Homo sapiens: one gene and its partner. The protein of the gene in region 1 purifies or fractionates together with the protein of each later gene. This does not show direct contact. Each region holds a gene or a part of one and is shown in the gene's direction. Other genes may lie near its edges.

Evidence for each region.
Region 2: the proteins of SLC25A19 (region 1) and SEPTIN8 purify together in Homo sapiens (affinity purification with mass spectrometry; one large-scale study listed by BioGRID and IntAct). This does not show direct contact.

The regions. Positions count from the first base shown.
Region 1 is NC_000017.11:75,275,860-75,279,640, reverse strand, and holds part of SLC25A19 (mitochondrial thiamine pyrophosphate carrier), read left to right. Parts: intron 1-1,305; coding exon 1,306-1,489; intron 1,490-2,157; coding exon 2,158-2,288; intron 2,289-3,781. UniProt on the Homo sapiens protein: Mitochondrial transporter mediating uptake of thiamine diphosphate into mitochondria. It is not clear if the antiporter activity is affected by the membrane potential or by the proton electrochemical gradient.
Region 2 is NC_000005.10:132,763,550-132,767,359, reverse strand, and holds part of SEPTIN8 (septin-8), read left to right. Parts: intron 1-1,830; coding exon 1,831-1,951; intron 1,952-2,940; coding exon 2,941-3,136; intron 3,137-3,467; coding exon 3,468-3,654; intron 3,655-3,810. UniProt on the Homo sapiens protein: Filament-forming cytoskeletal GTPase. May play a role in platelet secretion. Seems to participate in the process of SNARE complex formation in synaptic vesicles.

The DNA.
Region 1 (3,781 bases):
GCTACTCGGGGGTCTGAGGCAGGACAATCGCTTGAACCTGGGAGGTGGGGGCTGCAGTGAGCCAAGATTGTGCCTAGGCAACTCCAGCCTAGGCAACATAGCAAGACTTCGTCTCAAAAAAAAAAAAAAAAAAAGATAATAGCATATTACCTCTAGCTTCAACTATTGACATGTTGGATTTTAGATTCTAGAATGATCAGAGAATATCTGGTCATGAAAGTGAGGGGAAGAGATGTGGTTAAAACCTACAAGACTCTCCACCTGCCTTAAGACTAGTCACAACCATATTATAAACATGATCTTGAACGATAAAAAATTTTACAACATATAAGATGTATCAAGGTTACAAAGACAGTTCTTCATGAATTATAATTTTAAAAAATACCCAGCCGCTCCCTGATTCCGATCCCCAGAGGCGACTACTTTTACTACTTATAGTTGTTTCTTTGATTATTTCCTTCCATAATTCTAAGTAACATGCTTGGCCGGGTGCAGTGGCTCATGCCTGTAATCCCAGCACTTTGGGAGGCCAAGGAGGAAGGATCACTTGAGGTCAGGAGTTCGAGACCAGTTTGGGCAACATAGCAAGACCTCCTCTCTACTTTATTTTTATTATTTATTTATTTATTTATTTATTTATTTATTTATTTATGTTTTTGAGACAGAGTCTCCGCCTGTCACCCAGGTTGGAGTGCCGTGGTACAATCTCAGCTCACTGCAACCTCCGCCTCCCAGGTTCAAGCAATTCTTGTGCCTCAGCCTCCCAAGAAGCTGGGATTACAGGCATGAGCCACCACCCCCAGCTAATTTTTGTATTTTTAGTAGAGATGGGCTTTCGCCATGTTGGCCAGGCTGGTCTCAAACTCCTGGCCTCAAGTGATCTGCCTGCCTCAGCCTCCCCAAAGTGCTGGGATTACAGGCGTGAGCCACCGCGCCTGGCCTCACCTTCCTGTTTTAACAGCTGCACTATTCTCTCGTGAGCTGGTGTCCCATAATTCACGTAACCAGCACCCACAGATGGACATCGCGTCTTTAGCTCTTCCCCAGGACGCTGCAGTGACTCCTGGACACATACTTTTGTGCACACCTGTGGATATAACAGTGGTATACATGTGTAGAAGGGGGAGTTTCTGGAAAATGCCATCCTTCGAATCTCTGTCCAGCGTTTCCCTTGACTGTCTTCCTGGCAGGAGGAGTTTCGCTCCTGGTAGCTGGTATTTTAGGCGAGGGGACAGAGCTATGATGGGCTGTTCCAGGGCTAAAACCACTTCACTGAGCTCATTCAAAGTGCGTGTGTGTGTCCAGGTCTATAATACGCTGCGCCACGCCGTGGGGACCATGTATAGGAGCGAAGGCCCCCAGGTTTTCTACAAAGGCTTGGCTCCCACCTTGATCGCCATCTTCCCCTACGCCGGGCTGCAGTTCTCTTGCTACAGCTCCTTGAAGCACCTGTACAAGTGGGCCATACCAGCCGAAGGAAAGAAAAATGGTGAGGCAGCCCTCACACGAGAGGGAGCCCTCCCACCCCAGCCACCAGAACACCCCCTTCCAAATCACAAAGGAGCTAAAGTTCTCCTGTCCGAATCAAAGACCGCGGGTCTCTGTACCTGGCTCTGTAATGTGGCAAACAAAACAACTGCAGCTGCTTGGAGAGGACTTGATTTCTTCCAGCTCCTGCCACACCCATCACTGGCATTACTGAAATTTACTTCCAGTGATTGGTCATGGTTTTCATTTTTGTCAGAAGTCCAAATTGCAAATTGCTTGTTTTTTGGTTGAGGTTCTTCAGTTGCTTTTTCCAGGCAGGGGGAGTGGGAGATGGGGGCAGGGGGAGGCTGGGGAGGGGTGGGGCATCCTGGTCCTCTCCAGCCCTGAACTGAGTCATGCTGCAGAGCCTGAGGCCCATGTTGCCTCCAGCTGGGGGACTGCGGCCTCCAACCCTTCCAGCCCGGATCACTCCACCAGAAGTGGCCGTGTCTGGCTCTTCTCCCCCTAGATTACATTCCTTTTTGGAATGGGAGGACCAGTGGAGGTCAGATAGAAGTGCGCTTGTGGGGTTTGGTTTGTGGTGGAGGATTAGCCCTGACGCCTTTTAAGTTGTCACCCATAGACTGCATTTCTCTCATCCATTCTCCCAATCCCACTTCTCTGGTTCAGAGAACCTCCAAAACCTGCTTTGTGGCAGTGGAGCTGGTGTCATCAGCAAGACCCTGACATATCCGCTGGACCTCTTCAAGAAGCGGCTACAGGTTGGAGGGTTTGAGCATGCCAGAGCTGCCTTTGGCCAGGTGAGCCGTTCACTCCCAGGCAGACAGCTCTGACCCTTGCCATCACTGGGCACATGAGGGAACCAGTAGTCACCTCCTACCCATTGGGCAACATCACCCCTGGCCATGGCCCCTTCACCTGCGTCCATTCCTTGAGATCCCTAAGCATGTGGGAAAGCTGCATGCAAGCCCTGGGTCCTGAGCACTGTGGAAGGATCTGGGCCAAGGACATACAGTGTCTGCTCTTTTTTTTTTTCTTTAAAATAGAGGCAGGGTCTCACTCTGTTTCCCAGGCTGGTCTTGAACCCTCCTGACTCCACCTCCCAAAGTGCTGGGATTACAGGTGTGAGCCACTGCACCTAGCACAATTTCTGCTCTTAAAACATATCCTGGCCGGGCGTGGTGGCTCACACCTGTAATCCCAGCACTTTGGGAGGCCAAGGTGGGTGGATCACGAGGTCAGGAGATCGAGACCATCCTGGATAACACGGTGAAAGCCCATCTCTACTAAAAAAAAAAAAAAACAAAAAAATTAGCCGGGCGTGGTGGTGGGCACGTGTAGTCCCAGCTACTCGGGAGGCTGAGGCAGGAGAATGGTGTGAACCCGGGAGGTGGAGTTTGCAGTGAGCTGAGATTGCGCCACTGCACTCCAGCCTGGGCAACAGAGCAAGACTCCATCTCAAAAAAAAATATGTCCAGAGGCTGGGCGTGGACGTGGTGGCTCACTCCTGTAATCCCAACATTTTGGGAGGCCGAGACGAGTGGATCACCTGAGGTCAGGAGTTCTAGACCAGCCTGATCAACATGGTGAAACCCCGTTTCTACTAAAAATATAAAAATTAGCTGGGTATGGTGGTGGGCGCCTGTAGTCCCAGCTACTCGGGAGGCTGAAACAGGAGAATCGCTTGAACGTGAGAGGTGGATGTTACAGGGAGCCACGATTGCACCACTGCATTGCAGCCTGGGCAACAGAGCAAGGAAGGTCCCCAAATATTAAAGCACACAGAAAAGGGGTTTTGCTGTAGCTGTTCTGGAATTGGGTGAATTTGAGCAACTAGGTTATATATATATGTATTTTTTTGTTTTTGTTTTTGTTTTGAAACGGAGTTTTGCTCTTGTTGCCCAGCCTGGAGTGCAATGGCACGATCTCGGCTCACTGCAACCTCTGCCTCCCGGGTTCAAGCAATTCTCCTGCCTCAGCCTCCCAAGTAGCTGGGATTACAAGCGCGTGCCACCACGCCCAGCTAATTTTTTGTATTTTTAGTAGAGACGGGGTTTCACCATGTTGGCCAGGCTGGTCTCGAACTCCTGACCTCAGGTGATCCACCTGCCTCGGCCTCCCAAAGTGCTGGGATTACAGGCATGAGCCACTGTGCCCAGCCATATATATATATATATTTTTTGAGACGGAGTCTCGCTCTTTTGCCCAGGCTGGAGTGCAGTGGCGTGATCTTGGCTCACTGCAGCCTGCGCCTCCCTGGTTCAAGCGATTCTCCTGCCTTGGCCTCCAAGCA
Region 2 (3,810 bases), on another chromosome or scaffold:
GAGAGCTCAGAGTTACCAGCTGGGCTGGAACCAGGCCAGTGAGGAAGGCCTGGAACACCATGCTAAGGGCTTTGGACCTGACCCAGCACCTCCTAGGCTTCATTAACTACTTTTATGTGGGCACCAATGAGAGGAAACTGCCTTTGGGACCTCCTTGTCCAATTATGTTTGCAGCCCTAAGGAGATCTGGGCTTGAGTGGGGAGATTGGGACATGATGCTTTGGGGCTAGGTGATGGGGAGAAAGGGTCAGCTATAAGAAAAGAGGCTCCGTTGAGAGAGAGTCATGGGAGAAAGCAGGTTTAGGGGTAGCCCTGACTTGTTTGAGGGGATGGTACAACTGCCCAGAGGGGCCATGTGGGGTCTAGGTTGCCAGCACCCACACTTGGGAGTCGTTGATGCAAGGCTGCTGTGGGGAGGTAGACATCAGTTGTGCAGAAGGTTGGGTTTGAGTGCCAAGGTTCTCTGGTTGGGAGGGAAGGATGGCCAGAGGGGTTCAGGCCAAGGCAGTGGGCTGTGGCACAGGTCAGCTGCTCAGGTGCTGAGGAGATGCTTCTGTGGGGCAGGAGTCAGGGCCCCCTGTCGGTTCCTGACCCCGAGCCTGTATCCACATCTGCACAAGGGCTGCCACTGGCCCTATCTCCTGGGCTGTCCTTAGCTGGACCTGCTTCACCACCCTGCGGCTATGGGCAGGAGAGACTCTGAATCCGCTGCCCCTTCCTCTCCTTCCTCTTTCTAGCTGTCTCAGGGCAGTGGGGCTCAGGAATGGAGGAGGCATGACTCTGCACAACATGGAGCTGCCTAAGGTCTGCCCTCCAGAGGGGCTGAACCTGGGAACCTTCCCTCGGGCAGCATTTTACCCCATTCCAGGGAGTCAGAGAAACCAGCCACACAAGTTGGAGTGTGACCATGACCCTCTGCTTTGGGTCCTCGTGGTTTCTTTTTATAGAGCGGTGGGCCACCTCCAGTGGCCCCAGCTCACTCGGGGCCTGCCGCTCAGCCCTCTGCTAAGGCCAGGCCTCCACATTCTTACCCGGAACCTTCTGTCTAGACAACCAGGGCTGAGATGGGGGTGGAAGGGTGGCAGGAGTCAGGAGCCAGGAGCTGGGGGTCTCTAGAGAATACCACTGAGGCAGAAGGGAGGAGGCCTCAGAGTCTCAGTCCCTTTGAAACCCACCCCTGAGCCCCACGGGGGGGTTGTGTGAGTGAGGGCCGGCTCCTTTAGCAGGGTCCATGCATGAGTCCCACACGTGGGTGTGTGAGGAGCAGGGGTGAACATGGAGGGCTACGAGCCCAGCTGATAGAGAAGGCTCCTCTGAGGGAGCATGCTTGTGAGGGGTTTGGACCAGACGTGGCCCTACTTGAGTCCTGCATCAGTGGGAGGGCCTGGGAGGACTAGGCAGGGGCAGCATCCCCCGTCTCCTAGAGCTGGCTGCAGGAACAGACACACTTTCCAATCTGGTCCTCTGGGACCATCTGGGGCCTCCTCCTGAGTAGGAAAACAGGTGGGCCCTTATGGGTAGCAACCACAGCCCCTGGGGCCACCTATGCCAGGAGACATGGAGCCCTCAGCCCAGGCATCCCTGGCCATCCCAGGTGGAGCAAAGCTACAGAGTGGAAGGGCCTTTCCCCCTGGGGGCATCGGGCTCCCTCTGGGGAAACTTGGCCTGGAGTTGGTGCTCGGGTGTACTCAGGGTGTGTCTGAGATTTGTTGAGAATTCAGACATCGGGTGGGGCTGCTTCACTGTTTTAACTCAGATTTAGCGCCCACCCCGCAGCTTGACCTTTCTTCCCCAGTGGGCTCATGTCTTGCTTTATTTCTCTCTTGGCAGAATGCAGAGCCAGAGCCCCGGAGCCTCTCCCTGGGCGGCCATGTGGGTTTCGACAGCCTCCCCGACCAGCTGGTCAGCAAGTCGGTCACTCAGGGCTTCAGCTTCAACATCCTCTGTGTGGGTGAGTGTCAGGGCCTGGCCTCAGACAGAGGGTGGGTGAGAACCTCCTGGGAGAGGGGGTGCTTCTGGCCCCCTGTTGAGCTGCAAGGGGGCTTCCCAGGCAGAGTGAAACTTTGGGGGTGTCAGGACGAGGATTTGGTTGGTGTCTCTGCCAGAGTCAAGGATAGAGTTAGAGCCAGGGCCTGACACAGCATTGTCATGAAGAGTAAACTGGATCGGGCACATGAAAGTGCTTTGTAAACTGTGGGTGTTTATCACAGAGATTTAGGTTCATTTATTCATTTGTTTGTTCATTTAAAAAACATGTACTCATTTACTGCTTCCCACCCTGTGTCAAGGACGTTATGGTAAACAGCTCTGCCCCTCATCACCATATCCTATGGTAAGTGCTCCAGCACGCATGTGAACAAATAACAGCCCCAAGCAGAGAGGCTCTCGGAGGTTCCCTGGGACTCCCAGAAGGACACAAAGTGCTCTTCTGGTCCCTCTGCAGGTGTCCTTCGGGAAGCAGCCCATCCTGAGTTCCCCCAGCTAAAGCCATGTGGAGCTAGGGCTGTCCGGGGCGCATGGGTTGAGCCACTGGTGGCTTTAGACCCTGGCCCTCTTGGTCCCATGACCACCCTGGTCCCAGGAGGGGTGTTGTGTAGAGCAGGTTATGTGTGAGGTGATTGGGTCTGCAGTGGTGTCTACACAGCTGCCTGGCTCTGTCTCTTCCCTGCTCCCTGAGGAAATACATCACATATCACACACAGCTATGTCTTCTGTCCAAGTTCACCTTTTGGCTCTTCCTTCCACAGGTTATTTCTGAGGCCACAGGAAAAGATAGTTCCTGGGGAATGGGGGTGATGAGGGATGGGGTGGGCGGCCTGCCCCTTTCTCTTATCCAGGGGCCATGGATGCCTGAGCCCTGCCTGGCCTAGCCACCAGTCAAGGACAGCCCATTTCCAGCCTATGACACCCACTTCTTCCCCTCCTGTCCTCACTGCCCAGGGGAGACCGGCATTGGCAAATCCACACTGATGAACACACTCTTCAACACGACCTTCGAGACTGAGGAAGCCAGTCACCATGAGGCATGCGTGCGCCTGCGGCCCCAGACCTATGACCTCCAGGAGAGCAACGTGCAGCTCAAGCTGACCATTGTGGATGCCGTGGGCTTTGGGGATCAGATCAATAAGGATGAGAGGCAAGAGGCGGGAAGGGCGGCCCCACCCAGCCTCCTCCCACCCCACCTACATTGGCCCCTATAACAGTAGCCCAGCCCTCACACTGCAGGGGGCCAGGGAGGGCCTCTTGGGGAATATCTGAGGCTCTGTGGTCACCAACAGACCAGTTACTCCTTTAGGTGTCTGGAGAAGGGGTCAGCTGCCTGTATCCAGTCAGGGATCTCAGGCAGAAGCTGTTCCCAGAAAGAAAAGGCCAGGGGGCAGCCTGGCTTGGCCCCGAGCCCTGAGCCCCCCAAGCCCCAAGCCCCTGATCTCAGCTGGCAGCCTCCTGGGTGATGGAGCTGTCTGTAGTTACAGGCCCATAGTTGACTACATCGATGCGCAGTTTGAAAATTATCTGCAGGAGGAGCTGAAGATCCGCCGCTCGCTCTTCGACTACCATGACACAAGGATCCACGTTTGCCTCTACTTCATCACGCCCACAGGGCACTCCCTGAAGTCTCTAGATCTAGTGACCATGAAGAAACTAGACAGCAAGGTATCCCTGTCCCCACCTGCTGTCACAGGCTCCATAGTCTTCTGCTGCGATGCGATGTGGTGGCTGCCTCATGCCTGAACACCATGGTCCTCAGGGACCTGGTCGGGGGCTTGTGGGTGGCCCCCCATTGGCTCGGTCCTCTCTCTGTCTTGCGTC